3 separate regions of the Homo sapiens genome follow, and regions 1 and 3 are each linked to region 2. The links come from fine-mapping of genetic effects on gene expression. A gene starts in region 2. Each other region holds a variant in brackets. All regions are shown on one strand. Distances are between the middles of the regions.

What was found. PIP is the estimated chance that this variant, and not a neighbour inherited with it, causes the effect.
Region 1: its variant is fine-mapped to the expression of SLC39A13-AS1 in whole blood (Lepik 2017, PIP 0.95).
Region 3: its variant is fine-mapped to the expression of SLC39A13-AS1 in whole blood (INTERVAL, PIP above 0.99).

The regions. Positions count from the first base shown.
Region 1 is chr11:47,354,767-47,362,766 of GRCh38, forward strand. SPI1 (Spi-1 proto-oncogene) reads right to left here. Exons shown (of 5, transcript NM_003120.3): 3 at 5,087-5,274; 4 at 4,078-4,240; 5 at 94-780. The coding sequence ends at 461. Among named protein-coding and RNA genes, the nearest start is that of MYBPC3, 6.1 kb to the left of the region's middle. The variant G/A (reference allele first, on the strand shown) is at 4,276.
Region 2 is chr11:47,405,617-47,413,616 of GRCh38, forward strand. SLC39A13-AS1 (SLC39A13 antisense RNA 1) reads right to left here and starts at 3,666. Exons shown (of 4, transcript NR_182308.1): 1 at 3,336-3,666. It overlaps SLC39A13 (solute carrier family 39 member 13), which reads left to right and starts at 2,974. Exons shown (of 10, transcript NM_001128225.3): 1 at 2,974-3,046; 2 at 4,471-4,779; 3 at 6,310-6,423; 4 at 6,730-6,851; 5 at 7,784-7,891; 6 at 7,981-8,000. The coding sequence starts at 4,479. RefSeq lists enhancers at 2,256-3,078, 3,367-4,233, 4,234-5,098 and a silencer at 2,487-3,276.
Region 3 is chr11:47,432,117-47,440,116 of GRCh38, forward strand. RAPSN (receptor associated protein of the synapse) reads right to left here. Exons shown (of 8, transcript NM_005055.5): 7 at 6,616-6,815; 8 at 5,648-5,931. The coding sequence ends at 5,859. LOC124902673 (a long non-coding RNA gene) reads left to right here and starts at 5,508. Exons shown (of 2, transcript XR_007062669.1): 1 at 5,508-5,651. It also overlaps the pseudogene LOC124902820. The variant C/CAT (reference allele first, on the strand shown) is at 4,762.

The sequences.
Region 1 (8,000 bases), 51 kb before region 2:
CGATGGACAAATGACAAAAAGAGACGTCGCAGCACACAGGGGCCAAAAGAGATACACAACAAATTTTAAAAGAGACTCTGTGCTGCAAGAGGATGGATTGAGAATAACTTTACTTGTTTTTTGGGAGGAGGTTAATGGGTGGGAGGGGTGAGAGGGGAGATCTGATTTACATACGGACTTGAGACTCCCAAGGCAGTACCCCGGGTCGTCCTCTGCAAGGTTGCCCCGGTGGGGTCTGACGCCCAGCTGGCGTCCGGGAGCCGGGGTGGAGTCCTGGAGGGAGGCGAAGCGGGATGTGGAGGGGGCCTGGAGTGGGGGGAGGGGGCGGGTGAGGCGAGGCCCGGCCCGCCACAGTCCTGCCTCTGGGCCCCGGGAGCGTCCTCCCTGTGTCCGGGCCGGGCGAGGGCTTAATGCTATGGCCAGCGGGGAGGCCTGGCGGGGCCCGGCGGGGGCTGCGGGCTCAGTGGGGCGGGTGGCGCCGCTCGGCCAGGCCCCCGCGGCCCAGCACTTCGCCGCTGAACTGGTAGGTGAGCTTCTTCTTCACCTTCTTGACCTCGCCCGTCTTGCCGTAGTTGCGCAGCGCGCGCGCCATCTTCTGGTAGGTCATCTTCTTGCGGTTGCCCTTCTGGATGCCCCAGCGGTGCGCCAGCGCCTCCTTGTGCTTGGACGAGAACTGGAAGGTGCCCTTGTCCTTGTCCACCCACCAGATGCTGTCCTTCATGTCGCCGCTGCGGAGCAGGTCCAACAGGAACTGGTACAGGCGGATCTTCTTCTTGCTGCCTGCGGGGGGGAGGGCCCGGTGGGAGGGGGCCCGGGGCCCACATGGGAGCCGCCCCCACCGCCTTGCGTACGCACAGGGGCCCGGGGACGGGGTGGCCGGGAAGGGCAGGGGAACGGCTGCCCCAGCCCGCGCCGGGCGTGCATACACAACGCACCCACACTCACACACACACACATGCTTGCGCACACACAGGCGTTCACACACACCCACTCACACCCACGCACTCACCCCCCCCACGCGCACACACTCGCACCCACACAGTGCACCAAGTACACACACATGCTCACATCCACATAACGCACCCACACCTCCTTACACATGCTCACACATCACGCCCACACCCACTCACACACGTGCTCACACAACGCACCTTCTCACACCCACTCACACTCATGCTTAAACACAATGCAACCACTCACTCATGCTCACACCCACACACGCTCACACGTACAATGTATCTGATCACACACATGCTGTCACACACATGCACACACAATGCACGTGCTCACAGACTCACACCCACATGCTCACACACATGCTTGTGCAATGCACCCAAACGCCAGATTGCACCCACACCCACCCACTTGCACATTCACACCCACATCTGCCCTCACACACTGTCACTTTCTCACACACCCACACAATGCACCAGCTCACACTCACACACATGCTCACACACTCATTCACTAACATGCCCCCACACACTGGCACCCACACGACACACCCACTCACATGCTTGCACCCACCCACATGTTCAAACCCACACTGCATCTGCTTACACATTCACAACCCACTCACACACACCTGGTCACACCCACTCATGCTCACACCTCATTCACACCCACTCACATGCACACTCACACCCACCCAATGCACCCACTCACACACATGCACACACACTCAGACCCACTTACTGCCCCCACACACGGTCACACCCAATGCACCTTCTCACACTCATATGCCCACTCACACCTGCTCACACACACCTCACACCAGGTTCACACACTCATGTTCACACACCTGCTCATACACCTCACACCAGGTCTCATAATCACACCTGCTTATACTTGCTTACACATGCTTGCACAAACACACCTGCTTACACATCTTACACTGCTCACCCTCACACCTTACATTGCTCACCCTTGCACACACATGCCCCTGCTCACACACACATGCTTACACCACACCATTCACTCACACATATCCACTCACATATGATCGCACCTACCCACACCTCACACACACTTGCACGCACACACCTGCTTACACACATCTCACGTTACTCAGCCCCACACGCACACACCTGCTCACACACATCTCACATTACTCAGCTACACACACACGCCCCTGCTCACACACTTGTGCTCACACACCTCACACCATTCACTCACGCACACACCCACTCACACATGCTCACGTCTGCTCACACACATGCTCACCTATCCATACACACACTTCCTCACACACCTCACACCAAGTCTCACACACACTTATGCTTACAAACTCATGCTCACACACATGCTAACACTTCACACATGCTAACACCTCACACATTCACACCCACTCACATGCTCACACCTCACACATGCTCACACCTCATACCTCACACACATGCTCACATCTCACACCCACTCACACACACCTGCCCACACATATCTGCACACACACATGCTCACACATATGCTCACACATCACACATACCTGCTCACATACATGCTCACACCTCACAGCTGCTCACTTATCACTCACACGCTCACACCAGCTCTTTCACACCTCATTGACACCTGCTCACTCATATTTCACACCACTTACACTTGCACCTCACACCTGCTCACGCATGCACATACATTCTGCTCATGCATATCCACTTGCATGCTTACACGCCTGTTCACACACAACCACTCAGACACCTACTTGCACACTCAAATGCTCACACACATTCTGCTCTCACATCCACTCACAGCAGCTCACACTCATGCATGCTCACACACACCTGCTCTCACACTCACACATCACACCCATTCTCTTGTTTTTGAGATGGAGTTGCTCTTGTTGCCCAGGCTGGAGTGCAATGGCACGATCTCGGCTCACTGCAACCTCCACCTCCCGGGTTCAAGCAATTCTCCTGTCTCAGCCTTCCAAGTAGCTGGGATTACAGGCGTTCACCACCACGCCTGACTAATTTTTGTATTTTTAGTGGAGACGGGGTTTCGCCATGTTGGCCAGGCTGGTCTCGAACACCTGACCTCAGGTGATCCGCCTGCCTCAGCCTCCCAAAGTGCTGGGATACAGGCGTGAGCCACCACGCCCGGCCCACTCACACCCATTCATGCTCACACACTCATTCACACACCTGCTTTCACACATACACATACCTGTTCACACACATGCACACCTGCTCACACACGCAGGTGCTTAAGCACGTCCTCACCCCCCACACACACCTGCTCACACATGGGAACACACACATGCTTACACATGTTAAAACACATATCCACTCACATACATGCACAGACCTGCTCACATATACACATACATGCTCACACACCCCAGCTCACACCTTCCTGCTCACACACACCTGCTTACATACACCCTCAAACATGTTCACACCCACTCACACATCCACTGACACACACCTATGCCCATTCACACACACTTATATCACACACATCCCTGCTTACATACACATTCACACATATACACTTGCTCACACACCTGCTGTCACACCCCCACTCACACATATCACTCACACATGCCTGCTTACAGCCACTCACATATACCATGCTCACATCCCTGCTCACACAGGCACACCCACACACTGCTGACACCCACTGACATCATACGTGCACAGCTGCTCACACGCACTGAAATACATTCATGTGTTGACAGACACACAAACATGGCCACACCCACTCTCAGCCACACCAGCTCTCACATTCACCTTCTCACACACCCACTCACACAGCCACTCGCACACATGCACCTGCCCGTACCTGTGCACACGCACCCTCTGCACACTTGCTCACACACACCCAGATGTACACACACTCATGGCACAGAGAGACACACACACCTGGCACACTTCATGGAGATGCCCGTATGCACTACACAGCAGATACACACACACAGAGACAGCCACAGACAGCCCCACAAAACACACACACTGGCAAACATGCACACACACACACACGCGACTCGGTGGCGTGGCTGCTGGGTCAGTTGGCCTGGCTGGGTGGGGGCAGGGCACAGACACGGCCAGGGTCGGGGCCAGGGTGGAGGGCCAGGTGCCCCACCTGTCTCCCCAGGCAGGAGCCCAGGCCCGGGCTCCAGGCCATCCGCCTCGCCGTCAGACACCTCCAGTGGGGGGCTCTGCCGCTCGCCCTCCTCCTCATCTGAGCTGGGCTGGGCTGGGGACAGGGATGGGTACTGGAGGCACATCCGGGGCAGGTAGGAGACCTGGACGGTGGGGGAAGGAGATCAGAGTCAGGAAG[G/A]GCCAGCTTACAGCTCAGGGGGGCTGGGAGGGAGGTCAGCTGGGGAGAGAAGGAGTGCAGAGGGCAGGGGACAATGGCAGGCACAGGAGACTGGAGGAAGAAGACCAGGGAAAAGGGGGGCCAGTTGAGGTGCTGCACATAGGGTGCAGGCTGTGGGGCGAGGGGTGCTGACATCCAGCCCACCCAGCCCTCCCAGCTGGGCCTCCTGGTTTAGGACTGTGGGCACCGGGGAAGTGGTGCCTTGTTCTCCTCCCTGCAGCGGTGCTGTGTGGACCCGCATTAGGCTGGGGTCAGAAGAGGGCATGCTAGGGACCGGTGCGTTGGGTCTGGAAGGGGGTTTCATAGGTGGGATGATGAGTGAGTGGAGGGACCCTGGAGGTCAGTAGGGGTGGTAGAGGTCAGCAGAGGTCACTGATCCGGGTTAGGGTCAGTAGGGAGGGTCACTGGGGAGAGGCAGGGTCAGTAGAGGTGTTCAGTGACTTGGTGTGGGATCCATGAGGGCTAGTGAATGGGGGTGGCAGACAGTGAGGCCCAGGAGGGCCCACAACAAGGCGTTGGGATGGGGAGGCTTGGTGAGGGTGCGAGAATTATCTGGGGTCTGTCCATACTCGGGGTGAGATGAGATAAGGGGTGTGGGGTCATGAGGTCACTTGGGGGGTCAGGCGGCAGCCGTTGGAGCTCCAGCCGCCGTTGGCACTGTGGGGCAGGAAGCTGAGTTGGGTAAGAGCCTGTGTCAGCTTCCTGTGAAGCTCCCGGGCCCCACCACAGGCCTGGCAGTCTCCTGGGGGACGGGGCAGGCGGTGGCATGCACCTGGTGGCCAAGACTGGGATGGGGTGGCACCATGGGGGTATCGAGGACGTGCATCTGCTCCAGCTCCATGTGGCGGTAGAGCTGCTGCAGCTGCGGGGGCTGCACGCTCTGGAGCTCCGTGAAGTTGTTCTCGGCGAAGCTCTCGAACTCGCTGTGCACGTGGTGGGGGTGGAAGTCCCAGTAATGGTCTGTGGGGGACAGCCAGGCAGTATGGGGTGAGCTCAGGGTTGGGCAGGGCAGGAAAAGGTTATAGTAACATTAAATAATACTGCCAGGCCATATGGGGCCTAACCATCTCGTTTAACCCTCGCCACCTGCATGGTTACTCTAGGCCTGCATTTTATAGATGAGGACACTGAGGCTTCGAGCGGCTACATAGCATGCCCAAGGTCAAAAGCATCCGGGTCACAGCCAGGACTCAGGGCTGAAGCAAAGCTCGTGTTCTCAGCAATTCCATCCTGATTCCTGTGCAGTCACACAGACCGAGCGTCTAATCCTGGCTCTGCCATTTACTTGCTGTGTGACCTCAGGCACATATGTGGCCTCTCTAACCTCAGTTGAGTTGCCTGTAAAATGGGGATCACAGTTATTGGGAAGATACGAATGAGTACACATTTGTAAAACACCTCGCACCAGAGCCGGCCCTCAGGGAAAGTTGATTCCCCTCCTATCCTGTTAAAACCTCCCAGCCAGGGCCGCGCGCGGTGGCTCACGCCTGTAAACCCAGCATTTTGGGAGGCGGAGGCGGGCGGATCATGAGGTCAGGAGATTGAGACCATCCTGGCCAACGTGGTGAAATCCCATCTCTACTAAAATACAAAATATTAGCTGGGCGTGGTGGTAGGTGCCGTAATCCCAGCTACTCAGGAGGCTGAGGCAGGAGAATCGCTTGAACCCGAGAGGTGGAGGTAGCAGTGAGCCGAGATTGCGCCACTGCACTCCAGCCTGGCGACAGAGTGAGACTCTGCCTCAAAAAAAAAAAAACTCGGCCGGGCGCAGTGGCTCACGCCTGTAATCCCAGCACTTTGGGAGGCCGAGGTGGGTGGATAACGAGGTCAGGAGATCAAGACCATCCTGGCTAACACAGTGAAACCCCGTCTCTAGTAAAATACAAAAAAATTAGCTGGGCGTGGTGGCGGGTGCCTGTAGTCCCAGCTACTCAGGAGGCTGAGGCAGGAGAATGGTGTGAACCCAGGAGGCGGAGGCTGCAGTGAGCCGAGATTGCGCCACTGCACTCCAGCCTGGGCGACGGAGCGAGACTCCGTCTCAAAAAGAAAAAAAAAGAAAAAAGAAAAGAAAAAAACCTCCCACGGGTTCCTGAGCTCCCTGGCTGCCCACAGTCTCTCTCTCTGTCTCACACACACACACTCACACAGCCTTGTCACATGGCCAAGGTGTGACAGCAGAGTCACAGGGCTGACATTCCTCACACACTAGAACTTGTCCAGGCACACGGTGGCCCTTCCTCTTCAAAGCCATGACCTTAAGCAGTGGCACCTGTGTTCCCGTGAGGTTCCTGGGACCTGAGACTTTCCTGGAAAACCCCCTGTGGGTTCCTTGAGTCTGTGGTGGAGGAGACTGAAGTCCGGGGAATAACCCCATGCCACCAAAAGCCCTGTCTTGGAACTGGGGAAGATCTTCAGCATGAACACCTTTTCCAGGAACAAAAACTGCCACACATCTGCGGGACTTCCTGGGCGCAATTCGGGGTCCAAAATGAAGCGTGGTAATAAAGTGACAAGATCGGCTGTCTCATGTGGGCCAAAGAGGGCGCCTACGAGACTCCAGGTCCAGGCAGTGTCTCTGGGACAAGTCCACCACCAGCCATGCGTGCGTGTGTACGTGTGTACAAAGGTGTACACATGTCTGCCTGCATCTCTCTTTCTCTCTCACACAAACACCTAATCACACATCCCTAATAGATAATCATGATTTTTGGTTCTGGACTGGATCTCGGAGTACTCGCTTTCTAAACCTGCTTTGCAGTATGACCATGGACAAGACATTTTTTTCTCCCGGAGCCTCTCATTCCCCACTCTAAAAGTCAGAAATGCTTTTAGACCTGGGTAGTTACTGAGGCCTTGTCTACATGTATAATTATTTGGCCTCACAGTCCAGACAACCCAGACTCCCACCTTTAGGAAGCCACATGGCAGAGAGGAGAGAAAGGCAGAGCTGGGCTCAAGTTCTGGCTCTGCCATTTACCACTGTGTGACAATGGGCAGGTCATTCTATTTCTCCAAGCCTGTGTCCTCATCTGTTAAATGGGGCTAACAATTACACCCATCTCACAGGCTTGTTTTGAGAAGCAAATGACCTATTGCTTGCAAAGTGCTTAGACTAGAACTTGGCACAAAGACAGACCTTGATAAACATTAACTTCATCATTATCATTATTATTAATAATAATAATAGTTTATTCTAAAGAGCCTAGATTCCCACTGAGTGTGGTTACACCTATAATCCCAGCTACCCAGGAGGCTGGAGAGGGAGGATCACTTCAGCCCAGGAGTTTGAGACCGGCCTGGGCAACATAGTGAGACCCTATCTCTACAAAAAATGTTTAAAAATTTGCCAGACATGGTGGCACACACTTCTAGTCCCAGCTACTTGGGAGGCTGATACGAAAAGATCGTTTGAACCCAGGAGTTTGAGGCTGCAGTGAGCTATGATTACATCACTGCCTCCAGCCTGGGTGACAGAGTGAGACCCTGTCTCTTTTTTTTTTTTTTTTTTTTTCTCTGAGATGAAGTCTCACTCTTGCCCAAGCTGGAGTGCAGTGGCACGATATCGGCTCACTGCAACCTCCACCTCCCGGGTTCAAGTGATTCTCCTGCCTCAGCCTCCCAAGTAGCTGGTAATACAGGCATGTACCACCATGCCCAGCTAATTTTTGTATTTTTAGTAGAGATGG
Region 2 (8,000 bases):
AGAGAGAGAGAGAAAGACAGAGGCTAGGTGCAGTGGCTCACGCCTATAATCCCAGCACTTTGGGAGGCTGAGGCGGGTGGATCATTTGAGGTAAGGAGTTCAAGACCAGCCTGGCCAACATGGTGAAACCCTGTCTCTACTACAAAAATTGGCCGGGAAGTAGTGGCCCATGCCTATAATTCCAGCTACTTGGGAGGCTGAGGCTGGAGAATTACTTGAGCCTGGGAGGCGGAGGTTGCAGTGAACCGAGATCATGCCACTATACTCCAGTCTGGGTGACAGAGTGAGACCCTGTCTCAAAAAAAAAAAAAAAAAAAAGAGAAAGAGAAAGAGATTTTATATAGTGAGATTTTCATATATCTGAGATGAGATTTGATATATGTATACAATTTTACACATTGCATACATGTGATCATATACACCTTTTATTTATTTATTTTGAGATGGAGTTTCGCTCTTGTTGCCCAGGCTGGAGTGCAATGGCGCGATCTCGGCTCACTGCAACCTCTACCTCCCAGGTTCAAGCGATTCTCCTGCCTCAGCCTCCCGAGTAGCTGGGATTACAGGCATGCGCCACCACACCTGGCTGATCTTGTATTTTTAGTAGAGGGGGTTTCTCCATGTTGGTCAGGCTGGTCTTGAACTCCCGACCGCAGGTGATCTGCCCACCTTGGCCTCCCAAAGTGCTGGGATTACAGGCATAAGCCACCATGCCCAGCCATATATGGCCATACACATCTTTTAATGTGTTGTTTTCCTTTAACATTTTTTCCTTCCCTATTCACATTAGTTCCTCCCACCATAGAATCCATAATATCACTTTAATGTGTTATCTATGTTTTTTATGTATTCATTATACATAGACTTATATATACTGATACCTTTAATCACATACACATATACAAGGTTTCTTTTTGTCATTATTTTAAAATAGTCTCTTAAAAAATAAAAATAGTGGATCATATTAAATAAATATTTCTGCATCTCACTTTTCTCACACACCTGGAAACCCCTGCAATTTTATTAATTTGTAATTTTTTTTATTTTTTTATTTTTGAGACAGGGTCTCGCTCTGTTACCCAGACTGGAGTGCAGTGGCACGATCAGGGCTCACTGCAGCCTTGACCTCCCGGGTTCAAGCAATCCTTCCACCTCAGCCTCCTGAGTAGCTGGGGCTACAGGTGCGCACCATTACACCTGACTAATTTTAAATTTTTTTGTAGAGACCAGTTCTCAGTTTGTTACCCAGGCTGGTCTGGAACTCCTGGGCTCAAAAGATCTTCCTTCCTAGGCCTCCCAAAGTGCTGGGATTACAGATGTGAGCCACCGGGCCTTAGGTATCCGATGGGAATTCCAGGCCAGGTGGGAGGAAAGGGTAGTGCATTGGCACCAAGTAACGTTTCTGGCTGGGTCTTGCCCATCCCCTTGTTGGGTGGCCAGGAGCGCTCAGCCTCCAGAGGCAGGAATGCTGACTGTGTTATTGTGAAATCATTTGCATATTGTGAAGTGCTTTGCATAAGATGGAGCGCTTTTGCATACAGGGAGGGGGGCATTTTAGAAGTCCTAGGGCAGGATCCCTGAGTAGCTTTTCTTTGCCAAGAAACTAACCCAGGGATTCCATTTTGGAACTCAGGGAGGGAACAGAACGTCCTGGCAGTTGTATGGGCCCGGTGGGGTGAGATGGACAGAAAGCTTCAGAAGACAAGCTGGGCCACCAGGGAGAAGTTGGCGGTCTAAGGAAGGCCAACAGTGCAACATGAAGTGGGACAGGCACCAGAGGCAGCCCTGAGAGCTGAGTGTGCTCTCAAGAGCCCCAGCAGAGGGGAAAGTGACAGAGTAAATGGTTGGAGCTGCCATGGGAGGCTGATGAGGGTCAGAGACTTAAGAGACCTGTACTCAGTCGCTATCTCTGCCCAAGTGAGTACCCACATGCCCCTTCCTGAATCTTCTCCTGTACTGGCTGATTTCCAGAGAAGAATACAAACTCGAAACGCCAAGCCAGACTCCCACTGCTGTTCAGGACCTAGACGTGAGAAGTGGTATCACATACTCTGGCTTCAGGACACCCAGGTTTGAATCCTGGCTCTGCCATCTGTGCCACTGTGTGACCCTGGGCTAACAGTACCCACCACAATGGGATAATATGAGGATTCAGTGAGATAGTGCGAGTAAAGTGAATAGCACATAGTAGGTGGTCAGTAAATTGCGGTTATAAGAACTGCTATCCAGTGTTTGCTGCCTTAGTCTAACCAAAGAGGTCAGGTCTAGCTTCCTCCAGGTGAGGGAAGCACAGAGCCCTCGCCTCCCAGGTTTGGAGTTCCCATCAGCAGGGTCCAGCCACCATGCATTGGACCCCAAAGGGTTACAAGCCCTGGAGACAGTGGCCTGAGGTTCCCAGTGAAAAACCAAAGCATAAAAATAATTCGATGAGTAAGAATAAAATTCCCTCTTCTGAGGTTCCCGGGGCCAGGCCCCTCCCTGCGGCAGGCACTTCCCCTTTCCCTTGCTCATGGAGGAGCCAGGCCGGGCTGACTCAGAGCAGGAGCGCACAGTAGTCCTCCCAGCCCGACCTGGGCGGCGTGGTCTGGCGGCCGGGCGCGCCCCCGTGCGGCCACGGGCAGACTGCGGCCCTGGACGGGAAGCGGCGGCCAGATCCGCAAGCCCCGCAGCCTGGTCGATCGCGGTCCCCGCAGAGCCGCCGCTTCCGTCCCTGCCCAGCCTGGCTGAGCGCGGTGCGTGTGGCTCTCTCACTTCCGACCGACCCTCCCCTCCGGCCCGCAGCCCTGCCCAAACGGAAGTGCGCCCTCTACCCGGGTCCCCCACCGCCGCGAGGCGGAAGCGCCCTCCCGCCGCCACTCCCCCCGACCCCGCGGCACGCGGCGCCTCGGGTTCCGGACAGGCCCCTTGTGACGTGGCCGCGCGCCGGGGGCGGCCCCGGGCCGGGGGCCGGGCGGCCGGGCGGCCGGGCGGGGCAGAGCCTGGGCGGGGCGCGGCACCGCAGCTGGATGGCTGGGGCCGCCCGGATCGCCGCCGCCGCCGCCGCACGGTGAGTGCCAGCAGGACCCTCGGGGCCCGCGCCCCGGGCGTGATGGACCCGGCCGATCCCTCGCCCCGTCCGACTGGTCCTCATCAGACCTGGGCCGGCTCCCAGGACCCGGGAGTCAGGCTCGCCCGCTTCGGCCTCCTCTCCCCCATCGCTCCGCGCCCCACGCCCCATCCCTCCCTCGCTGTCCTCTCCGCGTCCCACCCGCCTCTCTCTAGCTCTCTCACTCTCTACTTTCCTCTCCCCTTGGACTCTCCGTGTATTCCCTCCCGCTAGCCTGTGGTCCCCTCACCTCTGCGTGACCGCCTCGTCCTGGCCCAGTCTTGCCTGTGGTCCCCAGTGGAGCCCCGCTGGCTTCATCAGTGCCCCTGATTAGTTAAGGCCTGGAGGTCCTAGACATGGGCATCTCTGCCACCACCCAGAGGCAGCTGCTTTCTTCCCCTCCCATCTCCATCAGAAGGTGAGGAAACTGAGGCAGGGACATCACCAGCTCAAGGTCACAGCCAGCCTGAGGCAGAGCAGACCACATTTAAACCTCATGCCCGAGTTTCCAGATGGAACTTCTCGCTTGGTTGACTCACGTCCACATCCTGTGATCGGCCGGCTGGGCACATTCCTGCTGCAGGGAGCCCCAGGCCTTCCCTGGCACAGGCAGGGCCTCTGCGCCTCCTCATGCCGGGTACATCCACCTGCACTTTCAGGCTTATCTCGTCCTCACAGCTGAGGCAGGTGATATTGATCCCTGTCCTGCAGATGAGGGCACTGAGGCTCAGAGGGGGGGCTTCAGAGATTTGCCCAGAGTTAGACAGCTCAAAGTGCAGCATAGAATTCACCGTGGGGGCTCTAAAGCCTGCGCTATACAAGAGAGAGGCATCCCCTGGCTAAAGGCTCCTTCCTCATCAGCCCCATCTCCTGTTGCCCTCAGTGCCCTGGGGACATTGGTCTCATGTCCTAGGAAGAAGCGTGGATGGTCTTGCCCTGGCTCATCTGCTCAGTTTCCCCACGTATGTCTCTCTGAATCCACCCCATCCCCTTAGAAGGGGTGCCTCAGTCTCTGGGGTGTCGCGGGCGGCAGGGCCTCCCCTGGCAGCCAGAGACACCCAGCTGGGCCGGGCCGTGCCGCCGGTGGCTGAGGAGAGCCAGCCAGCGCCTCACCCTGTCATTAGGGAAAGTTTAGCCTCAGGCGGAGGTGCTGACACAGTCTGGAGCTGCTCAGAAGGAAAAAATACGCAGTGCTCAGGAGTAGGGTGTGGAGACACAGGGCCCCATTGCTGTGCACCCAGCATTTGGATGCTCAGACGCTCTGGCAAGGACAGCAGGAGGGTGGATGCCAGGGTCCCTTGCGGGGAGGAGGGAGGCGCCACGTTTCCTAAGCAGGTGTGCGGCCAAGGCTGTAGCTCATATAGGTGGCCTTTTGTGTTTTTCAGTACGTGGCATGCCTGGATGTCCCTGCCCTGGCTGTGGCATGGCGGGCCCAAGGCTCCTCTTCCTCACTGCCCTTGCCCTGGAGCTCTTGGAAAGGGCTGGGGGTTCCCAGCCGGCCCTCCGGAGCCGGGGGACTGCGACGGCCTGTCGCCTGGACAACAAGGAAAGCGAGTCCTGGGGGGCTCTGCTGAGCGGAGAGCGGCTGGACACCTGGATCTGCTCCCTCCTGGGTTCCCTCATGGTGGGGCTCAGTGGGGTCTTCCCGTTGCTTGTCATTCCCCTAGAGATGGGGACCATGCTGCGCTCAGAAGGTAGGTGACTCTCCGGTGGCGCCCAGGGCTGGCCAGGGTGTGGGAAGCATGCTGCTGCTCTTCTTAGGAGACCCCAGGTCACAGAGTGTCTGAGATGGAGGGAGAGGATAGAATAGAACTTCTCCCCTTGGTCCTGTAGGAGCTATCTAGCCAGGGGCGGCTGGCTCTGGCTTCCCCAGGAAGCTATGAGCACCTGGTAGCAGGGCCTGCCCCTGGGGAGGGGGTCTAGGAGATGGGGATGTGGGCACGGGTGGGAGCTTTGTCCTGACTACCCTTTTGTACCATGAGCATGTACTGCCCGTTCACAAATAACATGTTGTAACAAAACACGCAGGAGAGCTCTAGGGAGCTGCTAAGAATGCACGTGCCTATCCCCCACCTAAGAGGGGTGGACCAAGGCCCTGGGAATCTGTTAGAAACGAGCATCCCAGGGGCTGGTGCTGCCAGCTGGATGCTCAGGAACCATTCACTTACCAGATGGTTACCCAGCAGCTCTGTGCCAGGCACTGGGCTGAGGGCGGTGCCACAGCTGTGAATAGAGCCCTGCTTGGGCCATGGTCAGGCCTGTGCTCAACCCTCAGAGCAGCCCTGCGGGGTCAGTGCAGGGAGCACCTGGATTATTAGTTCCATTTTACAAGTGGGGATGCACAGGCACAGAGAGGTTCTTTGACCAGTCCAAGGTCACCCAGCCAGGAAATAGCAGTTTCCCCTGGGATCCCACCCCAAACCCAGCTGCCTCTGTCCTCTAGGCCTCAGTTTCTCTATCAAGCCAAAGGGTTGGACATGGCTTTCAGGCAGGCGACTTCCAACCCTGGATGCTGCAAGTCCCCAAATCTCTGCCACTTTTCTGAGAGTGACAGCAGCTGAGAAGAGAAAAATTCCCACGTAATGAGCACTTGCTGTACATATTGTCATTTAATTCCCATAAGAGCCCATAAAAGGCTCACAGCTGTAATCTCAGCAGTTTGGGAGGCTGAGGTGGGCAGATCACCTGAGGTCAGGAGTTCGAGACCAGCCTGGCCAACATGATGAAACCCCGTCTCTACCAAAAATACAAAAATTAGCCGGATGTGGTGGCACACACCTGTAATCCCAGCTACTCAGGAGGCTGAGGCAGGAGAGTCGCTTGAACCTGGGAGATGGAGGTTGCAGTGAACCAAGATCACGCCACTGCACTCCAGCCTGGGCAACAGAGCGAGACTCCATCTCAAAACAAAACAAGATAAAATAATAATTCCCATAAGACCCAATTTACAGATGGAGAAACCGAGTCTCCAAAGTCATCTGCCAAGGTCACCAGCTAGTGGGTTGGGAGCTGGGACCTGTCAGCTCTTCACCATGACATGGTGGTGGCCCTGTGGGCATTTGGCAGGGTGTGGTGTTTCTGCTGTGAGGTGGGGGACCCAGGAAGAGCAGCCACCCATATCCAGCCTTGCAGGCCCAGAAAGAGCCCAGTGAGTGGGGTGGGATGAAGGTCAGGCCAGGAGCTCCAGCCAGTCAGCCCCCAGACCCCGCATCTCTCCCTTGTAGCTGGGGCCTGGCGCCTGAAGCAGCTGCTCAGCTTCGCCCTGGGGGGACTCTTGGGCAATGTGTTTCTGCATCTGCTGCCCGAAGCCTGGGCCTACACGTGCAGCGCCAGCCCTGGTAAGTGAGGCCACACGCCAGGGGCAAGACAGTGCCAGGAGTGGGGGCCTGGTGCCCACGCCCAGGGATGGCCAGGATGACCAGGAGAGGGATTCTGGGTTTCTGGCAGGAGCTTGCCTGGGAGGGAGGGAGGGTCATTGTCCTGGTCTCTGGGCCCTGGTCCCAGTGGGAGTTCTGGGCCCCAGCTGCCCAACCCACCCTTGTCACTGCCCTGGTGCCCTGGATGAGATCCCATTCCAAATGGCCCCCTCCTATGGCCCTGGCTTGGCTTGGCCTGGCCTGGCCTGGCATTGCCGCCCCCTGCAGGTGGTGAGGGGCAGAGCCTGCAGCAGCAGCAACAGCTGGGGCTGTGGGTCATTGCTGGCATCCTGACCTTCCTGGCGTTGGAGAAGATGTTCCTGGACAGCAAGGAGGAGGGGACCAGCCAGGTGGGCCCCACACTCAAGGGCCTGGATATATCAGCCTCTGTTCTGTGGTAGTGCCCGGGGCCTGGAGGCCCAGGGTCTGAGTTGAGCCCTGAAAAGAGGGGTCTCCTGGCCCTCTCCTGGGAGCTGCGGGAGGTTGGGCCACCTTCTTTGGGACTGACACCATTAGCCCCTGATGTAGCTTGTTCTGGTAGCCTGATGGTGACAGCAGTTGGGGAGGGTTTGTTGAGTTTGGGGGCACCCAACTGATATAGCAGCAGAGGATTCTAGCTAGAAAAAACAGGGGTTCCTATCTTTTTTTTTTTTTTTTTTTTTGAGACGGAGTCTCGCTCTGTCACCCAGGCTGAAGTGCAGTGGCACGATCGTGGCTCACGGCAACCTCTGCCTCCCGGGTTCAAGCGATTCTCCTGCCTCAGCCTCCCGAGTAGCTGGGACCACAGGTGCGCGCCACCATGCCCAGCTAACTTTTGTATTTTTAGTGGAGACGGGGTTTCACCATGTTGTCCAGGATGGTCTCGATCTCTTGACTTCTTGATCCACCCACCTCAGCCTCCCAATTATTATTATTATTTTTTTGAGAAGAGTCTCGCTCTGTCACCCAGGCTGGAGTGCAGTGGCGCGATCTCGGCTCACTACAGCTTTCACCTCCCAGGTTCAAGCAATTCTTCTGCCTCAGCCTCCCAAGTAGCTGGGACCACGCCCAGCTAATTTTTGTATTTTTAGTAGAGGTGGGGTTTCACCATGTTGGCCAGGCTGGTCTCGAACTCCTGACCTCAGGTGATCCATCTGCCTTGGGCTCCCAAAGTGCTGGGATTACAGGCATGAGCCACTGCACCCAGCCCCCGTCTCTCTTTCTCCATCTCTCTCCCCTTCTGTCTGCCCTGGCTGAGTGGGGGGCATCTAATGTCACCTCTCCCTCCTTCTCCTGGCCCTAGGCCCCCAACAAAGACCCCACTGCTGCTGCCGCCGCGCTCAATGGAGGCCACTGTCTGGCCCAGCCGGCTGCAGAGCCCGGCCTCGGTGCCGTGGTCCGGAGCATCAAAGTGAGTGGCCTGCTCAGGGCCCCTGCAGCCGTACTGCCCTGAGTGGCCAGCCCCACTCAGCCCTGCCTCCTGCCTTCCCTCCTTCCCAGGTCAGCGGCTACCTCAACCT
Region 3 (8,000 bases), 26 kb after region 2:
TGCAGTGAGCTGAGATCAGGCCACTGCACTCCAGCCTGGGCAACACAGCAAGACTCCGTCATAAAAAAAAAAATCAAAATAACTTCCAGACTTCATGACACTTCACCTGTAAATACTTCAGCCCGTGTCTCCTAAAAACAGACATTTTCATACATAGCTATGATACATTGGTAGTATAATACCTTGTCAGCTGGGGGTGGTGGCTCACGCCTGTAGTCCCAGAATTTTGGGAGGCCAAAGCAGGCGGATCACTTGAGGTTGGTATCCGAGACCAGTCTGGCCAACATGGAGAAACCCTGTCTCTACTAAAAATACAAAAATTAGCTGGGCATGGTGGTGCATGCCTGTAATCCCAGCTACTCAGGAGGCTGAGGCAGGAGAATCACTTGAGCCTGGGAGGTGGAGGTAGCAGTGAGTCAAGATTGCGCCACTGCACTCCAGCCTAGGTGACAGAGGGAGACTCTGTCTCCAAAAAAAAAAAAAAAAAAAAAAAATCTATCTATCTATATATATAGTCATACCCAGGGAATTTAATATTGATGCAATAATATCCAATATATAGTCTATATAAAAATGTCTTAAATTATTCCCTAAACATCCCTTATAGCCTTTAAAAAAAAAATCCAGTATCGTTGGCCAGGTGCGGTGGCTCACGCCTGTAATCCCAGCACTTTGGGAGGCCGAGGCGGGTGGATCACCTGAGGTCAGGAGTTCATAGACCAGCCTGGCCAACATGGCGAAACCCTGTCTCTACTAAAAATACAAAAAATTAGCTGGGCGCTGTGGTGGGCGCCTGTAATCCCAGCTACTTGGGAGGCTGAGGCAGGAGAATTGCTTGAACCTGGAAAGTGGAGGTTGCAGTGAGCCGATATCGCGCCACTGCACTCCAGCCTGGGCAACAGAGCAAGACTCCATCTAAGAAATAAATAAATAAATAAATAAAATAAAATAATTTTAAAAATCCAGCATCAAGTCAAGGGTCACATGATCCATTTAGTTGTCACATCTCTTTAATCTTCTTTATTCCAGAACAATCTCTCAATCATTTTGGTCTTTCATGGCCTTGGCATTTTTGAAACATTCAGGCCAGCTGTCTTGTATGGAATCTGTTCTCCACATAGCAACCAGAGGAATTCTTGTAAAACCAAGTCAGATCACGTCACTCCTCTGCTCAAAATCCTCAGCAGGTGCCCGACTCGCCAGAGCAGGAGCCAAAGTCCTTCCCAAGTCCTGCATGTGTTCACACCACACTCTCCTCCTGGCCTCCACTCCTCCTCCTTCCCTCCTGCTCACTTACAGGCCTCCCTGCTGCTCCTGAGCACATCAGGCAAGCTCCTGTCTTAGGATTCTGTTCTCTAGGAGAATGCTCTTTCCAGGAAATCTGCTTAGTTCAATCTCTCACCTCCTTTAAGGTTTCACTCACATGCCACCTTCTCAATGAGGCCCAGCCTGTTTCGTTTTTTTTTTTTCACAGGGTCTCACTCTGGCCCAGGCTGGAGTGCAGTGGTGCCATCTCAGCTCTTTGCAGCCTCTGCCTCCTGGGCTTAAGTGATACTCCCACCTCAGCCTCCCAAGTAGTTGGGATTACAGATGTGCACCACCACATGTGGCTAATTTTTGTATTTTTAGTAGAGACAGGGTTTTGCCGTGTTGCCCAGGCTGGTCTCGAACTCCTGACCTCAAGTGATTTGCCTGCCTCCGCCTCCCAAACTACTGGAGTTACAGGCGTGAGCCACCACACCCAGACAATTAGTGCCTTTATAGGAAGAGGAAGACAGAGGGAGGGAGGGAAAGAGACTAGGGGGTGGGGGGCAGATCACCTGAGGTCAGGTGTTCGAGACCAGCCTGGCCAACATGGCCAAATTCTGTCTCTACTAAAAATACAAAAATTAGCCGGGTGTGGTGACACGTGCCTGTAATCCCAGCATTTTGGGAGGCTGAGGCAGGTGGATTGCTTGAGTCCAGGACTTCATGACCAGCCTGACCAACATGGTGAAACCCTATCTCTACTAAAAATACAAAAATTAGGCAGGCATAGTGGCACATACCTGTAATCCTGGCTACTTGGGAGGCTGAGGCAGTGAGCCAAGACCATGCCACTGCACTCTAGCCTGGGCAACAGAGCGAGACTCTGTCTCAAAAATAAATAAATACATAAAAAGAGAGAGAGAGAGGGCTCAATCTTGCTGTCACCACAGCAGCATGGGGGGAAAGTCTTGTAAGAACACAGAGAGAAGGGCAAGTCAGGAGGAGAGGCTTCTTGAATTTTCTGGCACCTCGATCTTGGATGTCCTGTCTCTAGAACTGTAAGTTTTAGTTGTTTAAGCTTCTCATCCTAAGGTGCCTTGTTATGGCAGCCTGAGCTGCGACATTCACTGTTACTCATTATCAGTGGCTGCTGGGAGCCCATCCAAGCTGGCTCCTGTGGCCTTTGAGTTTTCCTCATTATTCTTTCAACTTCCCTTGCTTTCTGGCACAAAATAGCTCTGGCTCATCTTGTACTCTCTATGACCCAGCCCTGGAATCAGGCCCTTGACCAAAGAGCCTTGGTTCCTTTTTGTGAAACATGGTGTTTCAAAGCCAAGCCCTGGCTGCTGGGTGAGCTCATTGCTGTTGGCATATCACTGCGCCCAGGCTGGTGGACACGCACATTTATAACTATATTTATTTCTAGATCTACCCGTATATTTTGAAATCCATGAGTTCACACTGATTCTTACAATTCTAATTCAGCGCCACAGGGTCCACTCTGGTTCTCTCCCTTTCCATATTTGTAATTCTCTCCATCAATAGTGAGAAAGCGGCCAGGCACGGTGGCTCACACCTGTAATCTCAGCACTTTGGGAGGCTGAGGCAGGCGGATCATGGGGTCAGGAGATCGAGACCATCCTGGCTAACACAGTGAAAACCTGTCTCTACTAAAAATGCAAAAAATTAGCCGGCATGGTGGCACATGCCTGTAGTCCCAGTTACTCAGGAGGCTGAGGCAGGAGAATTGCTTCAACCCAGGAGGCAGAGGTTGCAGTGAGCCAAGATGGAGGCATTGCACTCCAGCTTGGGTGACAAAGCAAGACTCCATCTAAAAAAAAAAAAAAGTGAGAAAGCTGCCTTCCACTGTCCTTAATCTACCTACTTTTTTTTTTTTTTTTTTTGAGATGGAGTCTCACTCTTGTTGCCCAGGCTGGAGTGCAGTGGTGTGCTCTCAGCTCACTGCAACCTCCACCTCCTGGGCTCAAGGGATTCTCCTGCCTCAGCCTCCAAGTAGCTGGGATTACAAGTGTGCACCACCACGCCCAGCTAATTTTTTTTTTTTTTTTTTTTTGAGACAGAGTCTTGCTCTGTCACCCAGGCTGGAGTGCAGTGGCAGGATTTCGGCTCACTGCAAGCTCTGCTTCCTTGGTTCACGCCATTCTCCTGCCTCAGCCTCCTGAGTAGCTGGGACTACAGGCGCCTGCCACCACGCCAGGCTAATTTTTTTTTGTATTTTTAGTAGAGATGGGGTTTCACCATGTTGGCCAGGCTGCTTTCGAACTCCTGACCTCAAGTGATCCACTTGCCTCGGCTTCCCAGAGTGCTGGGATTATAGACTGTGAGCCACCGCACCTGACCTACTTACTTGTTTGATCAACCCCCTCTGTGTACCCAGTGTTCCACTGCCACTCCCTTCCACACACAGAACCCTCTTCACTCCATCCTTGACCTAATGCCCCCTGCCAGGATGCCCCAAATCATGTGCATGGCCTATTCGCTCTACTCAAGCTCTGATGCCTCACACAAACCTTCACCAATTTGGATGCCTCCTTACTCTGGTGAGGTCCCAATGGCCCACGCCAGGCTGCCCCTCCTTGGGCTTGGTCTCTGACACTTCAAAACAACCCAACCCCATGTGTGGATTCTGTCCTCTCTCCACACAGGTTCTGACCTCTCACCCCAGGCCTTGCCCTGTGTGGACACTCTTCAGCCTGCTTAGATTCCAGTGCCTCACACCAGGTCACCCCTCCACACAGATGCTTGTCTTGCTCTGTCCCACTTAATGGTTTTAGAACTGGTTTAGGGAAGGGGGTGAACATGAGGAAGAGGGACCAGGCTCTACTCTTTTTTCTTTTTTGAGATGGAGTCTCGCTCTGTTGCCCAGGCTGGAGTGCAATGGCACAATCTCAGCCCACCACAACTGCCACCTCCCAGGATCAAGCGATTCTCCTGCTTCAGCCTCCGGAGGAGCTGGGATTACAGGCGCCCACCACCGCGCCCAGCTAATGTTTGTATTTTTAGTAGAGACGGGGTTTCACCATGTTGGTCAGGCTGGTCTCGAACTCCTGACCTCAGGTGATCCAACCTCCCCTCTGCCTCCCAGAGTGCTGGGATTACAGGTGTGAGCCACTGCGCCAGGCCTCTACTCTTATTTTTTTTTTTTTGAGACAGAGTATTGCTCTGTCCCCCAGGCTGAAGTGCAGTAGTATGATCTTGGCTCACTGCAACCTCTGCCTCCCAGGTTCAAGAGATTCTCCTGCTTCATCCTCCCGAGTAGCTGGGACTACAGGTGTGTGCCACCATGCTGACTAATTTTTGTATTTTTTTTTTTCTAGAGACAGGGTTTTGCCATGTTGTACAGGCTGGTCTTGAACTCCTGGGTTCAAGTGACCCACCCACCTCGGCCTCCCAAAGTGCTGGAATTACAAGCAGGAACCACTGCACACAACCAGGCTCTACTCTTTATTGTTACAAAGAACTTATCACATTATATGAGCCTGCTAGGACTGT[C/CAT]ATTAGGCAGGTGAGGCCTTTGGGAGGCAATTAGGTCATGAGGGTGGAGCCCTTATATATGGGATTAGTGCCCTTATTAAGGGACTGTGCCTGGCATGGTTGTTCTCGCCTGTAATCCCAGCACTTTGGGAGGCCAAGACAGGTGGATCTTTTGAGGTCAGGAGTTAGAGACCAGCCTGGCCAACTTGGAGAAACCCTGTCTCTACTAAAAATAGAAAAATTAGCCAGGCATGTTGATGCGTGTCTGTAATCCCAGCTACTCAGGAGGCTGAGGCAGGAGAACTGCTTGAACCCGGGAGGCGGAGGTTGCAGTGAGCTGAGATCTCACCACTGCACTCCAGCCTGGGCGACAGAGTGAGACCCTGTCTCAAAAAGAAAAAAAAAAAAGGAATGCAGAGAACTTCCTTGTCCCTTCCACCATGCAAGAACACAGCAAGAAAACTCAATCTGTGAGCAAGAATGTGCGCCCTCACCAGACACCCAATCTGCAGGTGCCTTGATCTTGGACTTCCCAGCCTCCAGAACTGTGACATATCAATTCCTGTTGTTTACAAGCCACCCAGTCTGTTTCGTTACAACAGCCCAAACGGACTAAGCCTTCAACATGGGAATCTGGGGGGACACGATTCGTCTATAGCAGCTTCCCACCAGGCTTTCCAAACTGTGTGTTTCCTGTTTATCATATACCCTCCCACCCACTGCACGTCAGCTTCTCACTGCAGGGATCGTGTCTCTGTGGCATCCCAAGTTCCTGGAGGGGCTGCTGGAGGCCCTTGTACATATGTGCAGAGGAAACGCTTGCGTCTGAGGAAGCTCCTGTGGGGCGCCTCACTCCCACTCTCCCCACTCCTCAGACCTTGGGCATGGAAAGTCGGAATCCCTGGGACCAGGTACAAACAGTTTATTTTTCTATAAAGAGCAAAGTACAAAGAGGCAGGGAGGGGAGCTGGGCCCAGGGGAGCAGCCCTGGGCAGGCCCCAAGGCCTTGGCTATGGTGAGGACGACCTGGCAGCTGCCCCAGGAGTAAATGGGCCTCTGGCGTGCAGTGGAGAAAGAGCAGGAGTGGCGAGGAGGAAGCCCACGCCTGCTGCCAGGAGTCATACAAAGCCAGGCTTCATGGATGAGCGGCGGCAGTTGGGACAGCTCCGGGTCCCGTTGTTCTGCAGGCACCTGGGGAGGCAAAGGGCCCTGTCCACTCCCCTGAGGCCTGTCCTTCCCTCCGGGCCCTCTCTTCCTTCCTTGCCTGCCCTCTGCAGGGGCTGGGATGCATCCTGGTGGCTGTTCAGCAGCAGTGGAAGGGAAGGGAACGGTCCCCCCAGGCTCCCACTGCACCCGGCTTGCCCCTCTCCTCCTCTGCCCCAGGGACCTCCAGGGCAGAGCAGGGGCTGGGAGTTGAGAGGATGGGATGGAACCAGACCCACGGCAGGTCTGGCCCTGGACGTCCGACCTAATGACCTTTGAGGGGCCTCTCTGACTCCTCTTTGGGGATTATGAAAAGAATGGCCACAGATCTCAGCTCACTGCAGCCTCTGCCTCCCGGGTTCAAGTGATTCTCCTGCCTCAGCCTCCCGAGTAGTTGGGATTACAGGCTCCCACCACCATGCCTGGGTAATTTTTGTATTTTTAGTAGAGACGGGGTTTCACCATGTTGGCCAAGATGATCTTGAACCCCGGGGCTCAAGTGATCAGCCCGCCTCGGCCTCCCAAAGTGCTTGCGAGACAGACGTGAGGCACCACGCCTGGCCAAGGTTAAGTGTTTGCTATTAGTATTATTGCTGTGATTAAGCCAGCTGGGCCCTAGAGTGCCCCGAAGAGATCCTGCCCACCCCTGTCCACCCCCCCAGGAGCCCCCACCTGAGGTGGAAGATGTGGGAGCAAGGTAGGGCCTGCAGCCGGCTGTTCTTCTCGCCTATGGACTCGCCGCACAGGCCGCAGTAGAGCTCCGTCTCCTCCACGCACTCGTGGAACCTCACAACGTGCGCCCGCAGTTCCCGCTGCAGCCCTTTGCTGCGGTAAATGCTCTCGCTCAGACAGTGCAGCTTGAGCTGGCTCAGCTGGGGCCCGCAGGAGTGGAGAGCGCCAGTGGGGGATGAGAACAAAGTCAGTGCAGGTAGGCTCCGGTCTCAGCCACTTCCCTGTCTTGCTGATGGACCTTGGAAAAATGTCCTGCCCTCTCTGGGACCTTGCTTCCTTTCATGCAGAATGAGGCGGTGGGTGAGATCAGAAGACTTCACCCCCCAGAACTGCCTGGAGACCCCATGTTTTTGACAGATTTTATGACCAAACCTGGTGCACAGACTCCATAATAATTTGCGGCAGGGCGCCGTGGCTCATGCCTGTAATCCCAGCACTTGGGGAGGCCGAGGCAGGTGGATCACCTGAGGCCAGGAGTTCGAGACCAGCCTGGCCAACATGGCGAAACCCCATCTCTACTAAAAATACAAAAATTAGCCGGGGGTGGTGGTGAGTGCCTGTAATCCCTGCTACTCAGGAGACTGAGGCAGGAGAATCGCTTGAACCCAGGAGGCGGAGGTTGCAGTAAGCCGAAATCGCACCACTGCACTCCAGCCTGGGCTCTAATAGTGAAACTCCGTCTCAAAAAAAAATAATAATTAATCTGCTTTCCTGTTTTTATTAATTAAATATACACACAATAGCTCATCAGCATTTCTGATCAGCCTGATACCCAGGTAAACCAGAGTGGCTATAATCCAACCAAATTTTGGCATTTTGGTTGGACTGTGCACAGGATCTCGTAGAAATGCACATCTGGAAGGCTTTGAGAAGTGGTGAACCTGTTTTCAAGATTTTAAGGTTTTAATAAGATTATGACGATTTTTTTTTTTTTTTTTTTAGATGGAGTCTTGCTCTGTCACCCAGGCTGGAGTACAGTGGCACAATCTTGGTTCATGGCAACCTCCACCTCCCGGGTTCAAGTGATTCTCCTGCCTCAGCCTCCCAAGCAGCTGGGATTACAGGCGTGCACTACCACACCTGGCTAATTTTTGTATTTTTAGTAGAGACAGAGTTTCACCATGTTGGTCAGGCTGATCTCAGGTGATCTGCCCACCTCGGCCTCCCAAAATGCAGGTGTGAGCCACCGCACCCGGCCTTGGTTTTGGTTTTTAGGCCATGCTAATCTTCTCTGTATTGTTCCAATTTCAGAATATGGGCTGCCAAAGCAAGCACTAGATACCATTATTAAATTTGGAACATGGGCTTTGTAGTTAAAACAGACA